Linked DNA regions of Homo sapiens: all the other regions are linked to region 3. Evidence: fine-mapped expression QTL. A gene starts in region 3. Each other region holds a variant in brackets. All regions are shown on one strand. Distances are from middle to middle. Region 1 has its middle 50 kb from the start of LINC02416. Region 2 holds the start of PCED1B-AS1 (PCED1B antisense RNA 1). Region 3 holds the start of PCED1B (PC-esterase domain containing 1B). Region 4 has its middle 12 kb from the start of LINC02416. Region 5 overlaps PCED1B (PC-esterase domain containing 1B). Region 6 holds the start of MIR4494 (microRNA 4494).

Region 1 (4,090 bases), 220 kb after region 3:
CAGAGGCTTCATGAACCCTAAACCATAATTTCTAATTTTGTAGCTAATTTGTTAGTCCTGCAAAGGCAGACTGGTTCCCAGGCAAGAAGGGGGTCTTTTGGGGAAAGGCTCTTATCAATTTTGTTTCAGAGTCAAACCATGAGGTGAATTCCTTCCCAATTTTTTATTCCCACATTTGTTCCTTCCATCTCCATCCTTCCAACTTGATTTATATAAGGGAGTATTTCTTCAGGCACAGAACACATCCTCCTGACCTATGAAAGAGAAAAAGAATGGAAAGACAGCTCATGTTTTTTGGGGTATTAGTAGACTTTTTTCCAAAGACCTTTATCAGTAGTTTCAACACATAATGTCATGGTAACCTGGTTTGGTATGTGGCAGATGCTCAGATGTGTCCATCTGTCGTGACCTCTAGAGTACTCCGCCTCTACTTCTACTCTCTGAAGTGATTCTTCTTTTGTGTGTGTGCTGGTGTCATGCAAAGCTGTGGTATCTGACACCGTCATTTTACAGATGTACTGTATTTTCCAGCTGCTAATCTTAGATGTGGAAATAATGATCTTCAGCTTCATTTCCCCCCTCTATTAGAGTTGAATCCTGTAATTTTGCTCATTAGATTTGCAAATGAAGGTTATCTTATACTGTTTAGCTTGGTTAACCGTTAACCGTGGGTGGTGATGCACCTCCTGTCACGCTGATGAGAAGCAGCCCCTGCCTGCCAACCTTCACCAAGGCCTCCTGCTGAAGGAGAGGTTGTGTGGGAAAGGAACTGGAAATCAATGGGAAGAGGGCTGCAGGATCCAGGGCACTTCTCTTGAATGTCTCAGTTTTTCCTGATTCTTGAGCACTTAAACATCAGCCTCTCATAATAGTGAAGGAATTCAGAATATGCCACCCCAAAATATGCTGCTTTGGCATATTGATTATTTTGAGCTGAAGGAAATTGAGAAACAGCAGATGCAGAAAGGGATCTCTGCCCTCCTTTCCACCTAAAAGCAGGTGATCAAATTTATCATGGAAAGGATGCCTTCCCTGTATCAAGAGAAAAGAACGTTCTTATTTTCAGAGACTTGGAATCAACACAGAAATGGACATGCACAAACAAACTTACTAAAATAATCCATATCTTGCATTAGTTTCCCCCATATATTTCCTAGTCACTGTCCCACAATTTATTGCCCCTTATTCAAGCTCCTTGCCTCGTCATATCCCCACAATTTGTCATTCTTTTTGTAAAAAGGTATAGAAGCTTTTGGGCCTAACAGCTTCTTTGGGCTGTTGTTTTCTTTTTAAAGACTCCTGTGTAAATGCGAAAATATGAAGTCTGTATGCTTTTCTCCTGTTAATCTGTCTTATGTCCGTTTCATTCTTAGGCCAGCTACAGATCTAAGAGGGTAGAAGAATGTTTTTCCTAACCTACAATAGCAACAATAATAAGAGTACGCCTTGACAGGATGCTTCACAGATTACAAAGCACTCCCATAAACATTATCTCATTTAATAAGCATGATAGCCCCGTGAGATAGGTTATATTATCCTTATTTTCCACGTTGGGGAATGAAGTCTATTAAGTAGGAAATACTTGGCTTAAACAAGGTTTTCCAACTAGACATCCAACGTAATTTCACCAGGCCAGAGCCTGCATCACCCAGCGTAAAGGAATGTGATGGGAACAGGAGCCACATGGCTCAGACATTCATGTCTTCCCACTCCATCTACAGGCACATGCCACTATACCCGGCTAACATTATCTTTTTCTCTTTTTGTAAAGACAAGGTCTTGCTTCGTTGCCCAAGCTGGTGTCAAACTCCTGGCCTCAAGTGATTCTCATGCCATGGCCTCCTAACGTGCTGGAATTACAGGCATAAGCCACCATGCCTGACTTAACTTGTTACTTCTCTAACCTCCTCCTATATCCTTCTCAGTCCTTCTACTCCAGTCACAGGGATGCTTGCTGTTTCTCAAACACACCACCCACATTCTGGAGGCAGAACCTTTGTGCTTGCTGGAATCATTCTCTCCAGGTAGATTCACGGTTCCTTCCTTGTGTCCCTTTAGGTCTCTGTTCAAACATGACCTCATCAGAGACACCGTGTCTGGGCACCCTGCACATTCAGCACCCCTCATTATTCTGTCTCTTTCACCACAGTGCACCAAGGATTCATGGAGTGTGCCCCAGGTACAGACCAACAATAATAAAACATTCAGACTAATATTCAGGCTACTTTTTATTATCACTATGCAGCAGGAATTCTAAACAACATCAGTGATGGAATACTCTTCCCCAAGGAAAAAAACAAAAACAAATTTTCTATTGGTCTAAGTTCTAAACAGTTGCCACAGTCACTTTTGAGCTTTAAACATGAATATGCACATTTTAAATTAGCACATTTTATTGCTTAACCCTTAAGAAAAATGATGGCATTCTACTTGGAAGTTAATTCAGGGAACTTTAGCTATACAGCTGGCCCTGACACAAGTGGACATGACTATA[C/T]ATGTTTGTTTCAAAAGTAAATTTGTTATAGTTGAGAGTCATTCAAGTTTTGGGTACAGTTGGCAGGCTCAAGCCCCATGGTATGACATATCCCTATGTAAGGATCAACTGTAGGCAAATATAAATTGACAAATCTTGCTATGCTCTGAATTTAACATGAACACGCAAGAAGGAACAAGCCATTGATAGAGCCAATGACAAATTTGAAGAAGGCTTAAAAACAGAAACTACAGTATTATTCATGCCTGTGACAGAGCAATATATAGATATGTTTTTCTTTTTTAAAAAAATTAATGCTTTAAAAATTTAATCAATTTTTTCCTTTTTGATCTCTTATTTATTTATTAATTATTATTATTATTTTTTGACACGGAGTTTTGCTCTTGTTGCCCAGGCTGGAGTGCAATGGCACAATCTCGGCTCACTGCAACCTCTGTCTCCTGGGTTCAAGCCATTCTCCTGCTTCAGCCTCCCAAGTAGCTGAGATTACAGGTGCCTGCCACCAGGCCCAGCTAATTTTTTTTTGTATTTTTAGTAGAGACAGGATTTCACTATGCTGGCCAGGCTGGTCTCAAACTCCTGACCTCAGGTGATCCACCCATCTCAGCCTCCCAAAGTGCTGGGATTACAGGCATGAGGAACCGCACCTGGCCTTTATTTATTTATTCTTTTTTTATTATTAATTTTTTTACTGGCATGATAATAAATATGAAGTCCAACAAAACAAAATTTTCACTGTCTGCTTTTCTTTTCTGGCCATTATTAATATGTGCTCTGTATTACCGAAACGGGAAAGGTTCCCTCGTCCCCCTCACAGGGTGTGTGACGGGGGAGTGCCTCGCTTCTTCAATGCCCCGCTGCTCAAACCTCTAAGGGAGAATGGAGATGGGAAGGCTATATAGAGCTCCGACCCCAGGGCAGTGTCTAGGAGTGATTGTTTACAGCTTCTGAAGCCCCAGCGGGCATGTGTTATAGGGTGCTCTTTTAGTTTCCCGTCTATAGGTGACTTGTGTTCATCAGCTCAATTCGACCCCCTTCGTTATCACAAGGACAGAGGGATTTCTGTATCCCGGGGTTTCTGTATCCCGGGGTTTCTTGCCTTGGTGCACCAGAAGAATTGGATCACACGTGGACTTGGAGAATGAGAGCAAGGTTTTATTGAGTGGAAGTGGCTCTCAGCAAATGGGGGATCCAGAAGGGAGACGGTTCTCCCCCGGAGTTGGGCCGCTCATCAACGAGGCTCTCCTCCAACTGCCCCAGCCAAACTCCGTATTGTTCTGCGGATCGGGGTGCCTGCTGGATTGCCTGTGCCAGTGCATTCCACTTGACACCCAGCCGCCTGTGTGTGCCTCCGCCCATGTGCTCCTGTGGACGTCTAGCCACTTCTGTGTCTGCCTGCTAGGTCTGGGAGGTTTCTATAGGCACAGGATGGGGGCATGGCAGGCCAGGGTAGTTTTGGGAAATGCAACATTTGAGCACCAAGACAGGAGTACCGTCCTCACCTAGGTCCTTGGGGGTAGAGGCCCAGCCAGGGACCACCCTCTTCCCTTCCCAGCACTCCGGTATCATTACTTATCTGTGTAATAATAGTGCTAC
Region 2 (4,090 bases), 140 kb after region 3:
GAAAAATAATTGCGTTCCTTAAGATAGAAAATGTGGATAAAATGGTAATGGCTTGCATAAAGCAAAGTTTAAATTTCTCTGTGGCTATAACTACTAATGAGCTGCTAATAGTAAAGGATATCTGTGTGTGAAAGCACATTCACAGGGTAAAACATTATATGTGCATAAGTTGTCATTACTGTTTAAGAAAAAGCCAAGTTTGGTGGGTAAAAAATAAAAGATGGCTCACTGAGCTTTGAAACATGAGATAGGGCCAGAATAGCAATAGTAGCTGTCTACATAGAGCATAATAAGTTCTTGAAAGCAAGAAAATCAGTTGAAAATCTGTTGATCTCAACTTTATTTTAAGTTTAAAGAGTATAAGTGTGATTATCATTTGCATTATTACAGCTCTTCTGTTCTCTGGTCTTGGGATGATTACAGAGATTGTCCTTTTATTCTCACAGTGCACAGACTAGCTGAAATCTACAGAACTAGAAAGATTTGCAATTCATTTATAGAATTGCTAGAACTAAATAATGGCAGATTTTTCAAAGTTATGTAATAGACTACTCTGGATTATAAAATACTAAAGCTATCAGTTGGGTTCTGCCTTGATTCTATTAAATTTCCCGGTAATGACTGTACTAAAACTCATGGGGAACTGCAAGATAACTTTATTGATGGCCATAGAGGATGAAAACAATGCATAAGGTATGGAATTAATTTTAAGCCACACACTGAATAGACAGTGATGTAAAGTAAAATGATATTTTTCAAGGAAAGACAATTATGTCACATTATAATCCAGTTTACATAAATAGCATACTATTAAAAAAAGCTAAGTCTTCAGAGCATGTAATTCAGGACTGTTGTGAAACCTCTTACTCTTGTTGGTTAGTTATTTTGTGCTGTAAGGGAGGGAAAATGGCTTCCTCCCTACTTCTAGGTTCTTTGGCTGGGATACAAATTAAATTGACATAAAACAGATTAACAGGAGAAAAAAACATTTTTGGCCAGGCTCGGTGGCTCATGCCTGTGATCCCAGCACTTTGGGAAGCTGAGGTGGGAGGATCACTTGAGCCCACGAGTTCAAGACCAGCCTGGGCAACATATTGAGACCAAATCTCAATTCAAAAAAAAAGAAAAGAAAAGGAAAAAACATTTTTAATTATATGCACACACACTGGAATCCCCCAGGTAATAAAAGTTGTCTGAGAGCAGGACTCTTCCTGATACAGATACTTTGACTAATGTAGATTTCTTTTATAAATATAAATTTATTTTACAAAAGGACAGCTTTTCAGAGATACTCTTGTGTCTGCAGTTGCTCAGAATAATCAGCTCGAAATATGCCAAATAACTATATTTTGGGGTGGCATATTTTTTATTTTTGAGATGGAGTCTCGCTGTTGCCCAGGCTGAGGTGCAGTGGCGCAATCTCGGCTTGCTGCAACCTACGCCTCCTGGGTTGAAGCGATTCTCCTGCCTCAGCCTCCCAAGGACCTGGGATTACGGGAACCTGGGGGTGGTATATTCTGATCTTCTGTAGTCATGCACTGGGACCTTCTGTAGTCATGCATTTTCTCTCTCTCTTTTTTTTCTGATTCATTATTTCCTTTTCTTTTTCATCTTGGTATTTGTAGGGAAAGTGATATTCCTCTCCCCGAAATCATATTATTCCAGACAAAAGAAAACAAATGCCTACACTTATCTAATCAATCAGAAGACCATCTCCCCCACCCTTTTTTTTTTTTTAAAGA[T/C]GGAGTCTTGCTCTTGTCACCCTGACTGGAGTGCAATGGGACGATTTTGGCTCACTGCAACCTCCGCCTCCTGGGTTCAAGCGATTCTCCTGCCTCAGCCCCCCGAGTAGCTGGGATTACAGGGGCCCACCACCACGCCCAGCTAATTTTTGTATTTTCAGTAGAGACGGAGTTGCACCATGTTGGCCAGGCTGGTCTCGAACTCCTGACCTCAGGTGATCCACCCGCCTCGGCCTCCCAAAGTGCTGGGATTACAGGCATGAGCCACAGCGCCAGACGAACCATCTCCCTTTTAAGCACGCTGTCCCCTTGAGTTACCTGCTGGTTTCAAGTGGAACACTAAGGGAGGAAGCAGAAAGTTCTTATCTTGCTCTGCCACATACTGGATCTAGCTGAGGCTGGGGCTCAGGCCTGTGGTTTCCTGTAGTGTGGACTGAGCCATTTTTCCATCAAGACGTCAGTGGAGAGATGAAGTGAAAGGATTTAAAAGCGGTTTGTGGCCTGCCATGGTGGCTCACCCCTATAATCCCAGCACTTTGGGAGGCCAAGGCGGGTGGATCACCTGAGGTAAGGAGTTCGAGACCAGACTGGCCAACATGGTGAAACACCATCTCTACTAAAAATACAAAATCAGCCGGGTGTGGTGGTGGGTGCATGTAGTCACAGCTACTCGGAGCCTGAAGCAGGAGAATCGCTTGAACCTGGGAGGCAGAGGTTGCAATGAGCCGAGACCATGCCACTGCACTCCAGCCTGGGCAACAAGACCAAAACTCCGTCTCAAAAAAAATAAATAAATAAAAATAAAAGCGGTTTGTAAACTGTAACACCTTGCACAGAAACACAAGATTACTACTATTAAATATTATTTAGAAAAGTAGAGTTCTTCTTACCATTTCCCTGTTTCTTTCTTCTCACTTCCTCCTTTCCCCTTCTGACCATCTTTTCAGCCGTGAACATACCACACCAGCAAGAACAATAAGAGCCAAGGGTCTGAATTGTTTAATCAAAGGAAGAGTCAAAATAAGCTACACCCAGATTACTGAGAAAGGTGAAATGAAAACAAGCTCAAAACCAAATTCCAGGAAGATGCTGTCTTTGTATTGACTTACCATTTCATGTTTTCACACATGTCAAAGTCTTGAAGCTTCGGTCATTAGTCTTCCGCTTCCTAAAGCAAGAAACTAAATGCTGACTTGTGTCGTTTGCCCCAGATGCCACCGGAAATGTCATCTTCTCCCCAGACGCTGGCTTGCAAGCACAGCAGCACCCAGAGGCTAACCTATTTCCCCTATAGCCCAAGCTCTGAGATCTCCCGTCTGGTCACAATGATCTACAGGAGAGGAAGAAAGCTATCTAGGGACGAGATCTAGAATCAACTGAGAGAGATGCTTAAAAATCACCAGTTACTTTAATGAGTAAGTACTTTTCAGTTTTTCCATTTTATCTGAAACTTTAAGTTGGCATTTCTGACCAGCCTTTCTTGAGACCATCATTTTTTGGGCACTTACTGTAGACAGGAATCAGCACCCTAGCCTCCTTCAGCCCACCCCATGTAACACTAAAGAGACAACTGGTGCTTGGCAATAACAAAAATATTAGTGATTGATAAACTTGTAAATTTATTAAAATGGACAGTGAAAGAAAACAGCCAATTTAGTTGTGAACTGGAGAAGGGACGTGAGGCATCTGTTGTCTGCAATCTTGTATGTTGTGGTTGACCACAAAGGCTTGGCATCAGGTTTTACTTCCAGCACTACTTCTTATAAAATGGATGACCTTGGGCAGATTACTCAATCTTTTAGCCTTAATTTTTAAAAGTATAAAATGGAGAAAATTAGAATATGTAGTCCAGGTGCGGTGGCCCACACCCGTAATCCAAGCACTTTGGAAGGCTGAGGCAGGTGGATTATTTGAGTCTAAGTTCAAGACCAGCCTGGACAACATGATGAAACCCTGTCTCTAAAAAAAACTATAAAAATTAGCCAGGCATGGTGGCACAGGCCTGTAGTCCCAGCTACTAGGGAGGCTGAAGTGGGAGGATTGATTGAGCCTGCAGAGTTGCTGCAGTGAGCCATGATTTCGCCACTGAATTCCAACTTGGGCAACAGAGTGAGACAAGAAAGAAACAGAGAGAGAGAGAGAGACAGAGAAAGAAGAAAAAAAAAGAAAGAAAGAAAGAAAGAAAAAGAAAGAAAGAGAAAGAAAGAAAGAAAGAAAGAAAGAAAGAAAGAAAGAAAGAAAGAAGAAAGAGAAAGAGAGAAAAGAAAAGGAAAGAAAGAAAGAAAATAATTTCTTAGGTTGTTTTTGTTTTTGTTTTTTTGTGATGGAGTCTCACTCTGCTGCTCAGG
Region 3 (4,090 bases):
CCCATCTTTCTATGGCACATTGAGGAACTGAAGTACTTTACCTCATTTCCTACCAATCATTTTAAGAGAATTTGGTTGTATTTCAAAGAACAAAACAACACAATTTCTGTCCTGCTGTTTATTTTGCAGACCACACACAAAGTTAAATATGAACAGATTAAATTATGACATCATACAAATATAGGCACAAATTAAGTGGACGCCACAAAAGGTGTGTCAGAAAACACTGAATTGACTGAATCTGAGTCAGATTTCCCCCTCGTGGACTTTAGGATGCCCTCAGCTATCACTGCCTCGCTGGGAAAGAGCCTGACTTTCCCGTTCTGCCCTGCTGCAGTATCCTTCAGGGGTTCCAAAAACACCACTCTTTTACCTGCACCTGCCTTCCGTTCATCAGCGGAGGCATCACTAGCGGGGCCAGGACTGAGAATCGATGAATGGGCATTGCTTTGGTGTAGCATATTTTTCTGTCTCTTGGTTTTACACTTGCAGGGGCATGGAGTCAGATAGAGGTACAAAAGTACCAAAACGATACTGGCCACGCAAGCAGCAAGAGTGGTAAAAGCTGTGTTAAATGCCTCATGAGCATGGGATCTGCTTACAGTGAAATTGCTCACATTTATTGTGACGTCCACAGTTTCATTTAACAGGCGTTGCTTATTCATTGCGATACAAGAATACACTCCAGCATCCTCAAAACGAGGGCTTTCTATAACCAGACTTCCATTGTGAAACACGTAAAAGTTTTCCATCTCTTTATCCGGCTCTAGCAGTCTGTTATCTGGACCCACCCAGATGAAATCCGTATTTGCATTACCTGTCTTGCTGTCACAGTGGACCATCAGTCTTTCCCCGACCTGAGCCTCATGAATAAAGCCAAGCGCACGAAAGGAACCATTGATGATGCTGTCAGAGCAATTCATAAAGCTATCCTGGAGCAGAAGTACCTGACGCGAGTGCCTGGAGTCAGACCACAGGCGACAGGTGTAATCGTTCTTAAAATCCATCACTGAGCTAAAGTGCCTACGATACCAAAAGACCAGCAAGGAGTACAGGGAACAGTCACAGACAAATGGGTTTCCATGAAGGTAGATGCCTCTCAGCTGTTTTCCTGGCACTAAATTTATGTGGTGCATTGGCATGGAAGGAATTCGGTTATAAGAAACATCTAAAAACATCAGTTCTGCCAGCTTGAACCTTCCAACATACAAATCCATCGGAAACTGTGTGAGAAAATTTCCACTTAAGTAGAGTTTCTGCAACTGGGAGAGCCCTCCAAACGCTGAAGGATCGAGATAGGATATGTGATTGTTGTAAAGCAGAAGCACTTCCAGAACCTTCAACTCTTGGAATACAGCATTTTTCACCGTCTTCAGCTTATTGGACGATAAGTCAAGACACTTCAAATTTGGAGTTGTGGAAAAACTGCCCGTGGAAATGCTGGTGATGTTGTTATGACGAAGAATTAGGGTGTTCAGCTTTGCAAACGATACTGGAATCCACTCAGAATCCAGAAGCCCAATTCTGTTATAACTCAGGTCCAGTCTCTTAATCAGTCTGAAAAGGTTCCCAGGCACCTTGGACAGGTTTTTGTTGGTGCAGCTGACGATGTCAGTGGCACAGATGCAAGCGGTGGGGCACACCCCAGAGGCACCAGGGCCCACAGTCACTGTGATCATCAGCAAACACAGCAGCTCCCTGCAGCCCGGTCTGACGACGGCTCCAAGCAGGGTGGGCAGAGTGTGTACACGTAACGACATTATGGTCGCCTCTGAGTCTCTTCCCGGTGTCTTTTCCACCGGCTCAGCCTCCCACCAGTGAACCTGGCAAACAATTAATAATTCAGAGGGAGTAAAAAGCAGAAACTGACTACCACTAGTTAACCCATAAGAGCCATACCTTACTTTCTTTCCAATAACTTTTGAAATGGGTTTTATTTCACAATAGGGAGCTCTGTGTTGCCTCTTCACTGTTAAATGTATTTTTTCCTCTTTCCTGGGTTAGTCCTGCTTATAAAAATGTACAGTCACATTCTCTCCATACAACCCACCGTCTCACCCACCATCAGAAACTCAATTTTTTCCTAAGGTGCATCCTGCGTTGTTGTTGTTGTTGTTGTTGTTTTAAACTCCCTCCAACAGACACAACTATACGCAAACGTACGCTACAAACAATTAAACGGAAATACTTAGCAACCACCCATCCAGGAAAAAACTCACGGTGCTGGGGAGCCTCGTGGGCTCCGGGGAGGCTGCCTACGCAGTGCCTTCCGAAGGTCTGCGCGTCCGTCTGTCCGTGTCTGTCACTCTTGCACCTTCCGACTTCCTTTCCCTCCGGCTCCCGGCGGGCGGCACCCTCTAGCCGGCTCTCAACTTTGAGGAGTTTCAAGCAGCCGCGGCGGCAGCAGCAGCCCTGGACGCAGCAGCCAAGCTCTTCGCTGGCTCCCGGGGGCTCTCCCGGGTTCCTCTCATTGCAGGCTGAAGGTACCGCCTCGGCGCTCTGGCCGCCGTGTGCCCGCGCGCGGGGCGCCCCGCTCCCAGAGCCGGGGCCGCGGGAGGGGGCGCAGGCAGCCGGGCGGCAGCGGGCGGCCCCGCCTCTCCGCACTCGGGAGGCTGCAGGACCCGGGGTTCCCGCGCGCCCGGGGCCGGGAGACGGGCTGGGGCGCCGGTCCCACCCCTGCGCGTCCTGCCTCCTGCGGGCAGCAGCTCGGAGCCTGCGGGAGGGAGCAGGCTGGGCGCGTGGTGGGGGGCGCGCGATGCGGAGGGGGCGGCGGCGCAGCCAATCCGAGAGGCGGCCGGCGCCCCCTCATACCGCCCCGCGGCCTCGCCGCCTCCTCCCGCTTTCCTCCTCCAGCTCCCACCCGGACCTCTAGAACGGCCGCGCAGAGCGGGGAGGGGGCAGGGGTCCACACCAGAGGCCCAGACTCTGGTCCTTGAGTCAAGATGCCCAACCCACTCGCCTACCAATTACGTCCCTTCGTCCAGCTCCAAGCCGGGCGGTAATGGGGTCCAGGAAGGCTAAAGGGGACACGCCCAGCCACCGAGGGAGGGGTCTCACCCTTGGAGACCCACTTCGCGGCGGCCGCACAGGTCACGTCTCTCTCCCCACCCAGGCCAAGGAATCCCCGGACCTCTTAGAGCTTTGCTTTGGGGCAAGGGCCAAGGAGGCTTTGCCTGCGCCAAGTGCAGTTGACTGTCTGGGTTTACAAAATAAACCCAGAAGCAGCCTGACGTCTCCGCTCGTTTCTAGGGAGGAGGTCGCGGGGAGGGAAGTCGGGAACGTTTCCTCTCCACAGGGATATCTGCTGGGAGGAAGTAACCGGGAAATCGCCACGGGGACACCCCTCACCTCCCTGGGAAAGTTCTATCCCTTTCCTGACTCAGGAGGCGGCAACAGGGATGGTGTCCAATTCAAGAAGGAGGAGGGCAGGAAAGAAGGCTTGGAGCCGACCTTCCGGCTGGAATGCAAAGATAAGAGTATTAACCCAAATAATAATAATAATCCCAGAGCAGACCTTTTTTTCTTTTTTCTCTCTTCTCCTTCCCCTCTTCTCTCTCCCTCTCTCTCTCCCTCTCTCTCCTTTCTCTTTCGTTCTCTCTCTCTCATTTCCTCTGTCTCTGTCCCCGCCACCTCCCCGTCTTTTGCAAGCGTGCTCGTGGCGCGTGCGGGACAGGGAAGTAAGGGGCGTGTGCGCGGAGGCTCTTCATCCCTTCCGGAGATGCCGCGGCCGACCAGCGCGCTTTGGTTCAGCAAGCACAGAAGGTGCAAGCCGAACAAGGCCATTCAGAAATGAGGTGGAGACTATGAGGCTGATGAGCTCTACGATTAAAAATCCATTTTTGTTTAATTCCAAGATAAGTTTTAACGATGGGATTTGAGTGAGTCAGATCGCCCATTTGGCCATTATATCCGGATTAAAAGAAATAAATTACTGCCTTGACAAAAGATGCCAACCACAGTGGAATGAAAAGCAACCAAATTGAGGAAACAGTTGGGGCAGGATAGATAACTTGTAATATTACTTAAAAATAAAAATGATGAGGACAACCAACTCTTCCTCCCCTCCCCCGCGCACCTTTTCACTTGAGCA
Region 4 (4,090 bases), 260 kb after region 3:
TCTCTCTCTCTCTCTCTCTCTCTCTCTCTCTCTCTAGACAGGGTCTTGCTGTGTTGTCCAGGCTAGTCTTGAATCCCTGGCCTCAAGCAATCCTCCTGCCATGGCCCTCCAAAGTGCTGGGATTATAGGTGTTGAGCTGTCCGGCCCAGCCTGGTCCTTTCTTTTGGCTAGAGAGAGCAAGTTTTTGTTGGGGCTTTTTTGTTTGTTTCTTTGTTTGTTTACACCCATTGGCATTTTCAGGTTGCTACCTTCTTCAACTCCAAGTCTGAGTTGTATGAGGGGAAAACAAAAAACCAGGGAGCTTACCAACATATTGTTTCTTCGATTCTGAGGTCCCTAGTCAGTCTACCTTCTTATCTCACCTTTTAGAGTTTCCCTGTGTTTGATTTATGTATGCTGGACAGGGTTTTCTTTTGTACTTAGTAGGAGGAATAAGGAAAGTACATCTATTCTGCCTTCCTACATGTGGAAGTCTTCACAGAGCATTTTAATACAGGTAATAACAGCATCTTCCTCACAGATACCTCAAAGGACTATTGTGACAGTTAAGTAAGTTAATTGGACCATTGGAATAGTATCTGGCATGTAGTAAGCCTTACACAAGTGTTAGTTCTTCTTATTATTAGATAAACAATATAATGTGGTTGTTGAGGGAACAGATTCTGGAACCGGACTGCCAAGGTTTAAATCTCAGCTCTTACACTTAACAATTGTGTTATTTTTACTTAATTTCTCTATGCCTAAACTTTCTCATTGTAAATGGTGATAATAATTTCTTCTTCACAGGGTTATGGTGAGAATTAAAATAATTAATATATCTAAAGCACTTAGAAGATTGCCTGACATAGAATAAGTTCTATTTAAGTATTAGATATTATTATTATTATCATTATTATTAGGTATTATTATTTTAAACTAAAGTAGTTTATTTTCTCCTCAAAATACCCCCATGAAGTAAGTCGCAAGGCATCATTATCTTCATTTACAAACAGAGAAATAGAAGTTCTGAGGCACACAGTGCCCTGCCCAAGGTTATAGAGAAAATAAGTGGCAAATTCAGCCTCAGTCACAGTTCTTCTGGCTTCAAGTCAACACTGAGCTGAGGTTTGGCAAAAGTGCAAGGTGAAAATTGGTATTCATGCTTAGAGAATGAGGTGAGGGCTTAGATGGCAAACAGGCAAGAACAGAAATTGTTCCTAAGACAGCACGACAGAAAGACGACCTGAAGAAGATGGAGAGAGTGTGGCAAGAATGTAGTTGTTGGGCTAAGTCTGAGTCGAGATACTGACGTTAAAGAAATCACCAAGATTATTTCCAGTGAGAGATTTCCGCCCCAAAATGCATTCCGTCAGTGTCTCCTATTCACAGGGTAGTGAAGGGTGTCCTGATAGCTTGCCACTTCTCCCCGCAGGGTGGTTTTTCTGCTGTTAATAGCTCAAGAGCCTAGTTCCAAGAAACAGCAGAGGCTGCACCTTCTTTAGTTCAGAATGCCCCCAAGTCTGACTCTCAATAGAGAGGCTTCCTCCCTAAGATATTCCTACTGTTGCCCCCTACACCCTGCCAGCTTTCTGCACACTTCTGAGCCTGTCCAAGTTCAGCATGTGCCTCAGGGCTACATCAAGTGCCACCAAGCTTTCCTTGAGACACCAGCCCAGACTGAGCTTGACCCTCCCTCAATCCTGAGCATTAACCATGTCTACCATGTTTAAAGTTACATCTAATTGATTAGGCACCATATAATATCTAATTTTATGTATCTCCTGATATGTTTCATATGGGTAAGTTCTGTATTACCAGCAAGACCATGGCTCTTAAGGCAAGGTTTGCCTTATACAGTTTTTTGGGGCTGGAATAACAGCATTTGACAGAACATGATACTACCGTATGTAGTGCATCAATTAATACTTGTTAACTCTCAAACATAGGGTCACAGCCAAGCAGAGCTGCTACTATGTGGGATATATAGGGCCCCTGGAAAATTGTTTATTGTTATTTAATTTTTATTTCATAATTAATAAACTTAACTGTGCAATCCAGCTAGATGTGAAGGGGATAGGAAAAATATAGAACCCAAAGAACTGCAGTGAGAGCACAAAGATTATA[G/A]GATATTGCAAGTAAATGGGGTGGAAGGGTGCTTTCCTGAGCTACAGAAAAAATGGTCTGGTGGTTAAGATAAAACAAGTCAAATTTACTAGCATTTCCCACAATTGGCAATGGTGATATTCTTGCTGGTCTTGCCATTCCTGGATCCAAAGTGCTCCATGGTTTCCACAATATTCATGCCCTCTTTTATCTTCCCAAAGACAACAGGCTTGCTATGTAACCACTCAGTCTTGGCCGTGCAGATGAAAAACTGGGAATTGTTTGTGCTGAGTCCTGCATTTACCATGAACATCACGCCAGGACCTGTATGCTTCAGGATGAGATTCTCATCATCAAATTTCTCTCTGTAGATAAGCTTGTCACCAACGCCATAATGGCATGAAGTCACCACCCTAGCACGTAAGGCCTGGAATAATTCTGTAAAAGTAAGAACCCATATAACAAAATCCTCTCTCGCCAGCTCTCAAGTACAAAATTTTCTGCTGTCTGTGGAACTTTGTCTGCAAACAGCTCAAAGAAGACACAGCCCAAGTTGATGATGGCATCAAAGAACACAGTGGGATTGACCATGACGGGTGCAGGTGGCTCTGGGAGGCATCCATCTGCAAAGCAAGGAAAATATATGTATACATTTTAAGAAGCCTTGCCTAACTAAACAGTTTTATTGAAAATGCTTTACAAATTGTGTGGGCTCTGGAAAGTATAGTGATTTATCAATAAAAATTCAGAATAATGGGTAGAAAGGAGTAGAAGAGATGCTTACATATTTATTTATTGTCAAATCAGGGCAAATATCCAGACATCATCTCTTCCTATTTTGGTCTAGGAATCATCTTTTCATCTTCTTTATTGTCACAGATGCCATTCCTGGATAATTTCACATTTCCCACCATGACAAAAAGATAGCGGTACCTTTTTTCATGTGTCTGTTGGCTGCATAAATGTTTTCTTTTGAGAAGTGTCTGTTCATATCCTTCGCCCACTTTTTGATGGGGTTGTTTGATTTTTTCTTGTTAATTTGTTTAAGTTCTTTGTAGATCCTGGATATTAGCACTTTGTCAGATGGGTAGATTGCAAAAACTTTCTCCCATTCTGTAGGTTGCCCGTTCACTCTGGCCATCAGAGAAATGCAAATCAAAACCACAATGAGATACCATCTCACACCAGTTAGAATGGCAATCATTAAAAGGTCAGGAAACAACAGGTGCTGGAGAGGATGTGGAGAAATAGGAACCCTTTTATACTGTTGGTGGGACTGTAAACTAGTTCAACCATTGTGGAAGACAGTGTGGTGATTCCTCAAGGATCTAGAACTAGAAATACCATTTGACCCAGCCATCTCATTACTGGGTATATACCCAAAGGATTATAAATCATGCTGCTATAAAGACACATGCACACGTATGTTTATTGTGGCACTATTCACAATAGCAAAGACTTGGAACCAACCCAAATGTCCATCAATGATAGACTGGATTAAGAAAATGTGGCACATATACACCATGGAATACTATGCAGCCATAAAAAAGGATGAGTTCATGTCCTTTATAGGGACATGGATGAAGCTGGAAACCATCATTCTGAGCAAACTGTCACAAGGACAGAAAACCAAACACTACATGTTCTCACTCATAGGTGGGAATTGAACAATGAGAACAGTTGGACACAGGATGGGGAACATCACACACCGGTGCCTGCCATGGGGTGGGGGGTTGGGGGAGGGATAGCATTAGGAGATATACCTAATGTAAATGACAAGTTAATGGGTGCAGCACACCAACATGGCAGATGTATACATATGTAACAAACCTGCATATTGTGCACGTGTACCCTAGAACTTAAAGTATAATAATAAAAAAATGAAAAAAATGAATTATGGCAGGCTTCAGAAACCATGCAAGTCTGGAGACAAATTGGCATGTTTAAACTGCTGAGAGAAGGGAAAAATAATAACTCTCCACAATTCTATACGCAGTGTGAATATCTT
Region 5 (4,090 bases), 150 kb after region 3:
GGGCGTGGTAGCACGTGCCTGTAATTCCAGCTACTTGGGAGGCTGAGGCAGGAGAATCGCTTGAACCTGGGAGGCAGATGTTGCGGTGAGCTGAGATCACGCCATTGCACTCCAGCCTGGGCAACAAGAGCAAAACTCCATCTCAAAAAAAAAAAAAAAAAAAAAAGAGAGAGAATTGGGAAGTGATAGGGGCCTGCATAGACTGCTTTTCCTACCTCCTACCCCTCCAACCCCAGATAACTTTATTCTCTCTACCTGAATATGTCTGAAACTCAGGAGACAGGTCTGGGCTAGAGACAAAGATAATAGCTACATTCACTGAGCACTTAGAAATGTGGCGGTGTCATGCTAATAACTTTACATGTGTTCATTTAACCCTCACTTGTTAGGAAAACTGCAGTAATATTGTTCCCATTTTATTGATGAGGTTTCTTCAGGGCAGAGGGGTTGCTTAATAGGCCCAGGGACTCAAGGGCTAGTAAGCAGTGGAGCAGGATCAAACCCAGGGGGCCAACCCCAGAGCCCCTCCCTCTCAGCCAGTGTGCTTTATTGCCCCAATTCTCAGTCATCTGCATACAAATGGGAATTGATAAGGGGATGGTCCGTTGTAACCATCCAAACCAGGACTCTTAAGGGTTTGGGGTGCTACTAATCATTCTGGGGAAACAGGCAGAAACCAGAACTGTTTGGGGCAAATAGGGACATAGGGTTACCTCATTTCCTGACACTCTGAAAATGGGTGGACACACGAGGATAAGAATGTTGAAGAAGAGAAGAAAAGAGCCCTTCAGTGGGCCTTGAGAAAGACCTGGAAGGGAGGGAGAAATAAGAAAAAGAGAGAGAGAGAGAGAAAGACCAACATTTGGGGAACTGCCAGAGAAAGAGAAACCCTCAAAAGATACTAGGGAAAGACAGGATACAAGGGTGTCACAAATACGTGGACTTGAGGGCTGGGTTTCTCAGAGGGAGCAGTCAGTAGTGCCCCTACCCCTCATACTGTAAGAACCAAAAAGTGGCCACTGAAAGGAGCAACAGGGAAATCATCGGTGATTTACTAACAAACATTCCTTGGCTTTGATCCAGTCAGAGCCAAATTAAAGTAAACGGAGGAGTGAGTGGGAGGTGGGGCCCAGACCCAGACCCAGTCAGTGCAAGCAAGTTTTTTTTTTTAAATGTGGCCTTGGAGTGGAGGCAAAAGATAGGACTGTCCTGGAGGTGGAGTCAAAGATGTTTCCTTTCTTTTTCAAAGCAAGAAACTAGAATGTGTTTAATGCTAAAAAGAAGGATCCAGGCCAAGGAGGGTAAAGAAAATGCAGAATGCAAATTATCCCCTCACTGGGGGATATCCGGGAGCGAAGTCCCTGAGCTGCTGAGGAAGCTTTACGCCTAAGGAGGTACCTCTCTGCCTTTGCAGGAGGGTGGGAAGCGGGGTGAGGATTTGAAGGTTTGAGGAGGGAGTCCAAACAGGGTTCTGTCTGCAGGCCTGTGTTTTCTCTGGAATCATTGTGGGAGGGCTTGCTGAGCCAAAGGATTAGAGGGGCCTACTGTCTGGCAGGCCTTGTATTATTAGGCCCCTGATGTACGAGATCTCTTTTCATTTTCACTATTATTTGACGAGGTAGGTAATATTATTCCCTTTTTACAGAAGAGGAAACTGGTTCAGAACTGTGGGCAGCCAGCCCAAGAGCACGCAGCTGTCCAGGGGCAGAGTCCA[C/T]GTCTGGCTTCTTTGTCTGGAGTTGAAAGCCAGATCACCACCTTCTGGTATCTTTCATTTGTGTTAAAGGGGTAATAGGTAGGAAGTTAGCAAATATACTTTGAATAATGATGCAAGACCATCATGTAGAGGTTTACTATAGACTGTACATGATTGAAATCATACTTTTGTGTTTATGAAATGCTTTGATTATTTATTTTAGGGAATATTTACAAAAGGCTGTAAAACAAAAGTTTAAAAAAGTGAGGTCACTGGAATTAATGGTCCATAGTTTTATCTTTGGTTTTTACAGAAGTTACCTGCATTTCAGTTACTAAGAACCACCACTTCATTCATAAAAATGCTCTCTGCATTTCTTTCTGTAATTCATAGGCGTTGTTTATATTAGACTATTATTATGGGAAAATACACTGCTTTAAGAATTTTTAAACTTGGTAATTTTCAGACTCAAAGTGTTTGAGATTCTTCTGCTGATAGTTTATTTAAAAAGAATTACAAATTTCAGATTGTGGCCTGGTAGGGATGATACAAATACAAACTGAATATACCCACAGTGATTCCTTCCTCCACAAAGTAAACCTGTGATTACACGGAGCCCAGTTTGAAGATCTTTATTCTAGTTTCCGTTTTTCGCTTATCTCGCATGATTTTAGATGTGTTTAAAGACTACCTGGATAACCAACTTAGAAATACAGGCTATATGGCGTGGTTTCATGATGCGGGGATTCACAGGGGAATCATGGTTGTTGTTGAGGGATGTGAGCCAAATGTGCAGTAACAGCTGTCATAGCCGTAGATAGACGCAGGGCTCTCTAAATTTTTACTGAATTAATTAATGGACTGCAGATCCGAGACCTACGTAGGAAGTGAGGTCAATGTAGGTAGGTGATTCGAATCAGTTAACAGTCTTTCCAGTGGTTATTTGGCAATTCTTTTTCTTTTTCGTTTTCTTTTTTTGACACAGAGTCTCACGCTGTCGCCCAGGCTGGAGTGCAGTGACACAATCTTGGCTCACTGCAACCTCCACCTCCCAGGTTCAAATGATTCTCCTGCCTCAGCCTCCCAAGTAGCTCGGATTACAGGCACGTGCCACCATGCCCAGCTGATTTTTGTATTTTTGGTACAGACGGGGTTTTGCCATGTTGGCCACGTTGGTCTCGAACTCCTGATCTCAAGTGATCCACCCGTCTCGGCCTCCCAAAGTGCTGGGATTACAGAATTAAGCCACTGCACCCAGCCTGGCAATTATTTTTCTATTGCATTATTTACCACAGCATAGCATCTCTCAGTACTTTTCTGTATTTTTTTATTTGATCCTAAAGCCACTTTTAAAAATAGGCCTGCATTGCTTCTTCCACTTTGGTGTTGTATAGGTCACTGGATGTTAACTGACTTGCCTCAAATCAAAATATGAGTCTCTAGAGAATCCCCAGTCCACAAGTCACTAAGTTTTCCCAAAGAAAAGTTCGAATTGTTTGCTTTTCTTTTTTCTTTCAAAACTGTATATGGCATGTAATATAATTTTTGGCAAGTTTAAATTCACTTAGAAAACTAAGCAAATGCTGACATAGATAAATTATACAGGTGAGCTCATTAAAAATAATTCTTTATCTGTACCATCCATTCCACTAAAATTTAAGAGAATCTTGGAAAGTTCAAACTATTGGTTAGATCCCCCAAAATGCGGTTATAAGGAAATGAACCATTTATATTCCCAGTACAATATTGTATTAAGATAGTCATATGCAAGAAACTTATAAATTAGTTACAAGTACTTCCCACAATGAATCAAAACATCCTAATTTTTAGTGACTATCTCTGTGGTTTAAAACTTCTCTACAGTATCTCTAAAGCAACTGGCTTATTTCAGTGTACCTCTTCTTGTAACTAAAGATCAAAAAGAAAAGAAAAATCAACATAATTATTACAAAACATTAATGAAAGATAAATGTTATGTGTTTGGGTTGTGATCATTGTAAAGCAATAGTCAATGAGTTGTAATTCATAGCTTATGAAGCTATTAAAAAATTAATTATCCCCAAACAGGGAAATATAAACAAGATGCTGGAAAGTAATTTATTGTGGCAGTAGACATTATTAATACATATATCTGTGACAGCTTTAGCCTAAGCCCAAAATTTACTTTGAAAACAGAAAAAAACATGGAACTACTTATAACTATGATTTTTAAAATTACCATGAAACTTTAAAAAAATTCTGTTTTAATTCGAAGTTGGAATCAGGTTGCAATGATTGTTCATAAACCTCCCTCCTCTGGCTTGATTCTTCCAACAGTCTCAGGTACTTAATTTACATACATCCGTTTTAGCAGCCAGCTCTTTAAGTGCCCATTTTCTTACCCCTCCTCTTGAGAGA
Region 6 (4,090 bases), 280 kb after region 3:
GTCATACTTGAAGTATTGAGCTACACAGCTTTCCACGTCCTGCCCTGAATTAGGGTGGTGCCTCAGGCTTTTTAGACCAGGCTTACAGTTTCTTTGTACTACTGAACGACTACCTCAAAAACCAGGAGGCCCCATCTATCTGCTTCCAGACATTTCCATGAGCAAATAACCATATTTAGAATTGTGTTTGAGGGACTTCTTTTATTTCTGCTTCATTCTTGTGCTTTCTTGTCCTCAAAACATCCTCCCTCTGCCTCTCCCCCGCACCTTCGTGGCCAGGACCTCGATTTAAGTAATTTTAATCCTCTAAAGTTTTAACAAGTTGTAAAAGTTGATCTAACCTTTGCCCTGAGGCATTTAATCAACTGATACACACACAAGTATGTATGTATGTATCTATGTGTGTGTGTGTGTATACATATACATATATATATATTTTTTTTCTTTTTTCCTAGCACTTTTTACTCAAAGCCTTTAAACTCTTCAGATTCTGAATCTAAAAGCAGTTGGTTTTTTCAAATTTATAAGACTCCAAATTTTTGGATTATCTTTATTCCCTTTTATTATTCATTATAAACTGGTCATTTCTTTCTGGAGTTGCTTCTCTCTCTCTCTCTCTTCCCTCCCAGTACTTTGCCAAACACAACCAGAAGCAACCACATATATAATAGCAGCAGTACAATAGGTGAATGGTCTTGCAAGGTAATCACAAGCAAAACCTTTACCAAATGTGTTGCCTTCTTCCCAGCATCTGATATCAGTTTCCTCTCTGTCATCAGCTGACTGCTAAGCCAGTATTTTAATTTTTTTTCAACAGCTTACCACTACTGGCCTCAGCATTTTTTTTTTTTCCAGTCAGGATAAGTTTTTTCACATTGCAGTAGCAACTTTCGCCTGGAATCTCAGTGGCCTTAATACAATAAAGCTGTGGGTCTGATGTGAGTCAGGTGAGTTCCCTGGGCAACTGCCCTGTGTGATGAAGTGGCTCAGTTATTGAAAAGATTTCTGTCGCTGGTTCTGTCATCTCAAGTCATGGGCTCCGAAATTGACCAACAAAGGAAAAGATCACAGGGAAAATTCACACCTGCTTTTCTAAGCTTTGATCCTGAAGTGAGACATATCACTGCTACTCAAAGTCCATTGACCAGGATTGGTTTTACCACTCCACCTAACTAGACAGGACCGGAAGTTATCTCTTCCATCGTCCTCAGCATGTTGAGAGAGCAGAGCTGTAAGATCAAAACAGCCTGGACAGTGGGGCCCCTAAAGTGAGGACCCCTGTCCTGGAGAGTGGCCCAATTGCACAGGAATTTACATGAGTGAGAAACAAAATTTTGTTGAAATAATACCCTGGGATTTGAAAATTTAATTATTCTTGCAACAGTCCATCCTATCCTGATTAATATGGGAACCCGAAAGATAGGAGTGAATGAAACAATATAGTTTCTTTTCCCTGAAGCAATTGTAATTCCAATCAAAATATCAATAGGATTTTTTTGGAGACTGACAAAATGTTGTAAAGGTCTTGTAGAATAATAGAGGAGTGAGAATAGCCAATACAACTGTAAATGAAATAATGAAGAAATAGTTTTATCCAATATTAAGATATTTTATAGGTAGAGAAATTATAAGAAATAAGAAAGCTGTTAATGGAGAATAAAGACCCCAGAAACAGACCCAAATACCTTTAAGAACTTAAAGTATTAATATTAATATAAGGCCATGTGCAGTGGCTCAGGCCTGTAATCCCAGCACTTTGGGAGGCTGAGGTGGGTGTATCACTTAAGCTCAGGAGTTCGAGACCAGCCTGAGCAACATTGCAAAACCCTGTCTCTACAAAAAATATAAAAATTACCTGGGTGTGCTGGTGCATGCCCGTAGTCACAGCTGCTTGGGAGGCTGAGGTGGGAGGATTACTTGAGCCCTGGAGGTCAAGTCTGCAGTAAGCCATGATTGTGCCACTGCACTCCAGCCTGGGTGACAGAGTAAGACTTTGTCTCAAAAAAATAAAATAAAATAAAATATAAATAAGGTGGTATTTTAAAGTTAATGGGAGAATATGAATAATTCAGAAATGTTGTGATGAACATGCCATTGGGGGAAAAAGTGCAGAAGTATCTTATGCCCAAACAAATTCTATGTGGATCAATAACTTGAATGTAAAATATGAAACCATAACAATACTGGAAAAATCATTGATCTTTTTCTCATAATTTTTAACTGGGGAAAAGTGACAGACATAAAAGATAAGATTGATAAATTTACTTATATAAAAGTTAAAACTTTTTCAAGACTAGAATACCGTAAAGTCAAGAGATAAACCACAGGATAGAAAAAAAAAGTCTGCAATTTATATAACAGGAAGAGGGTTAATTTCTTTTATATACAAAGCAATTAAAAAATCAGCAACAGAAAACTGAACAATTCAATAGAAAAATAAGTTTGCAACAAAAACAAAGCAAACAGCCAATAAACACATAACATTTTTAGCTATCTAAAAAAATCAAGGAATGTAAGTTAAAACAAGATACTGTTTTTCACTTTGTATATTTTGCAAAAATA[C/T]TGGAGCTTGCACCCACCCCACCCAACCCCATTCTATGGTTTTACTTTCTGAGGTTTCAGTTACCTCTGGTCAGCCACAGTCTGGAATTTTCCATTTTGTATTTTCAGACTGCAGATGACCAGGGTAACTAAAACTTCAGAAAACAAAGTATTAAATGGAAAATTCCAGAAACAAACAACTTATACATTTTAAATTGTGCAGCATGGTATAATCCCATGGATAAAGGAGAACTACTGTAAAATGTTGATCTTACTCAAGAGTGTGGGAAACAGGACCACTCATGTATTATTAATGAAATGTAAATTGCTACAACTTTTTGGAAAGCAATTTGGCAATAACTATTAAAATTTAACAAGCACATTCTCTTAAACTCAGCAATTCTCCTTTCAGGAATTTTTCCCAAGGAAACGCTTTCACCAGGCGGCAAATATATACTGTATAGGAGTAGCATGATACTATTATTTGTAATAGTAAAAAAAAAAAAAAAAATTTAAATGCCCATCAAGAGAGGATTAAATAAACTATAGTGGCTCTGTAAAATGGGATATTACATAGCTGTTCCAAAGAACCAATGCATTTCTATGTCTTGATATGAAAAGTATCCAAACTAAACTGTTTTAAGTAGGAAAAAAAGGTAGAATACAATATCATTATAAGTGAAAATTCCTAGAATCACGTTTATACATATATTTATATACATGTATGTATATACATACAAATATCTGAGAAAAAAGAAATAATAGCTATGATTATCTTCAGCTATAATTACATTAAATATGGATTTGTAAGTAAGGAGGTAGGCGTTTACATTTCATACCCATTTGTAAGTTTTACAGCTTATGAATGTGTTGCTTTATGGTTAAAAACAAGATTTTAAACTATTAATCCTTTCATGCAAATATTAATTCTCCATTTCTACCATTCAATCTATATCTCAAAAAATTTGCATATACAAAAAAAACGGACCAAAGTTGTGGATGTTCAGAACATGTTATAAATGAGTAAACGAAGTCACCAATCATCATGAGAGGGGAGCACAATCTTTAGAAAGTCAAGCCCTGTTTCCACAGCAAGGAAAAATTCCCCAGGTTTAAGTGGTAATGGTTCTCTATCAACATTCCAAAAAGAAATTCAGTAATAATAGTAGTAGTAGCTGACATTTACTGAGTAGTGACTAAGTTGGATTCAGCAGTCAGCCCTTTTACACGCATCTTTTCTCTTTTTTTTTTCTGGCAGAGTCTTGCTTTGTTGCCCAGGCTGGAGCACGGTGGCATAATCTCGGCTCACTGCAACCTCAGCCTCCTGGGTTCAAGTGATTCTATTACCTCAGCCTCCCGAGTAGTTGGGATTACAGGTGTGCACCACCACGCCCAGCTAATTTTTGTATTTTAGTAGAGACAGCATTTCACCATGTTGGCCAGGCTGCTCTCAAACTCCTGACCTCAAGTGATCCACCCACCTTGGCCTCCCAAAGTGCTGGGATTATAGGCATGAGCCACGCCAGGCCAGGAATCTTCTCATTGAATC

Evidence for each region. PIP is the estimated chance that this variant, and not a neighbour inherited with it, causes the effect.
Region 1: its variant is fine-mapped to the expression of PCED1B in esophagus mucosa (GTEx, PIP above 0.99).
Region 2: its variant is fine-mapped to the expression of PCED1B in whole blood (TOPMed, PIP 0.99).
Region 4: its variant is fine-mapped to the expression of PCED1B in whole blood (INTERVAL, PIP 0.95).
Region 5: its variant is fine-mapped to the expression of PCED1B in whole blood (TOPMed, PIP above 0.99).
Region 6: its variant is fine-mapped to the expression of PCED1B in whole blood (INTERVAL, PIP 0.95).

The regions. Positions count from the first base shown.
Region 1 is chr12:47,301,819-47,305,908 of GRCh38, forward strand. No RefSeq gene overlaps it. Among named protein-coding and RNA genes, the nearest start is that of LINC02416, 50 kb to the right of the region's middle. The variant C/T (reference allele first, on the strand shown) is at 2,495.
Region 2 is chr12:47,213,533-47,217,622 of GRCh38, forward strand. PCED1B (PC-esterase domain containing 1B) reads left to right here. Exons shown (of 4, transcript NM_138371.3): 3 at 2,690-3,157. It overlaps PCED1B-AS1 (PCED1B antisense RNA 1), which reads right to left and starts at 2,911. Exons shown (of 3, transcript NR_026544.1): 1 at 2,852-2,911; 2 at 2,633-2,732. The variant T/C (reference allele first, on the strand shown) is at 1,743.
Region 3 is chr12:47,077,243-47,081,332 of GRCh38, forward strand. It overlaps PCED1B (PC-esterase domain containing 1B), which reads left to right and starts at 2,379. Exons shown (of 4, transcript NM_138371.3): 1 at 2,379-2,483. AMIGO2 (adhesion molecule with Ig like domain 2) reads right to left here and starts at 2,717. Exons shown (of 3, transcript NM_001370299.1): 1 at 2,220-2,717; 2 at 1,900-2,006; 3 at 1-1,823. The coding sequence starts at 1,760. The coding sequence ends at 192.
Region 4 is chr12:47,339,417-47,343,506 of GRCh38, forward strand. It overlaps the pseudogene PPIAP45. Among named protein-coding and RNA genes, the nearest start is that of LINC02416, 12 kb to the right of the region's middle. The variant G/A (reference allele first, on the strand shown) is at 2,104.
Region 5 is chr12:47,222,279-47,226,368 of GRCh38, forward strand. All of the region lies in intron 3 of PCED1B (PC-esterase domain containing 1B), which reads left to right. Among named protein-coding and RNA genes, the nearest start is that of PCED1B-AS1, 7.9 kb to the left of the region's middle. RefSeq lists enhancers at 1-622, 623-1,353. The variant C/T (reference allele first, on the strand shown) is at 1,715.
Region 6 is chr12:47,361,572-47,365,661 of GRCh38, forward strand. All of the region lies in intron 1 of LINC02416 (long intergenic non-protein coding RNA 2416), which reads left to right. MIR4494 (microRNA 4494) reads right to left here and starts at 2,698; the gene lies at 2,615-2,698. RefSeq lists a silencer at 11-60. The variant C/T (reference allele first, on the strand shown) is at 2,563.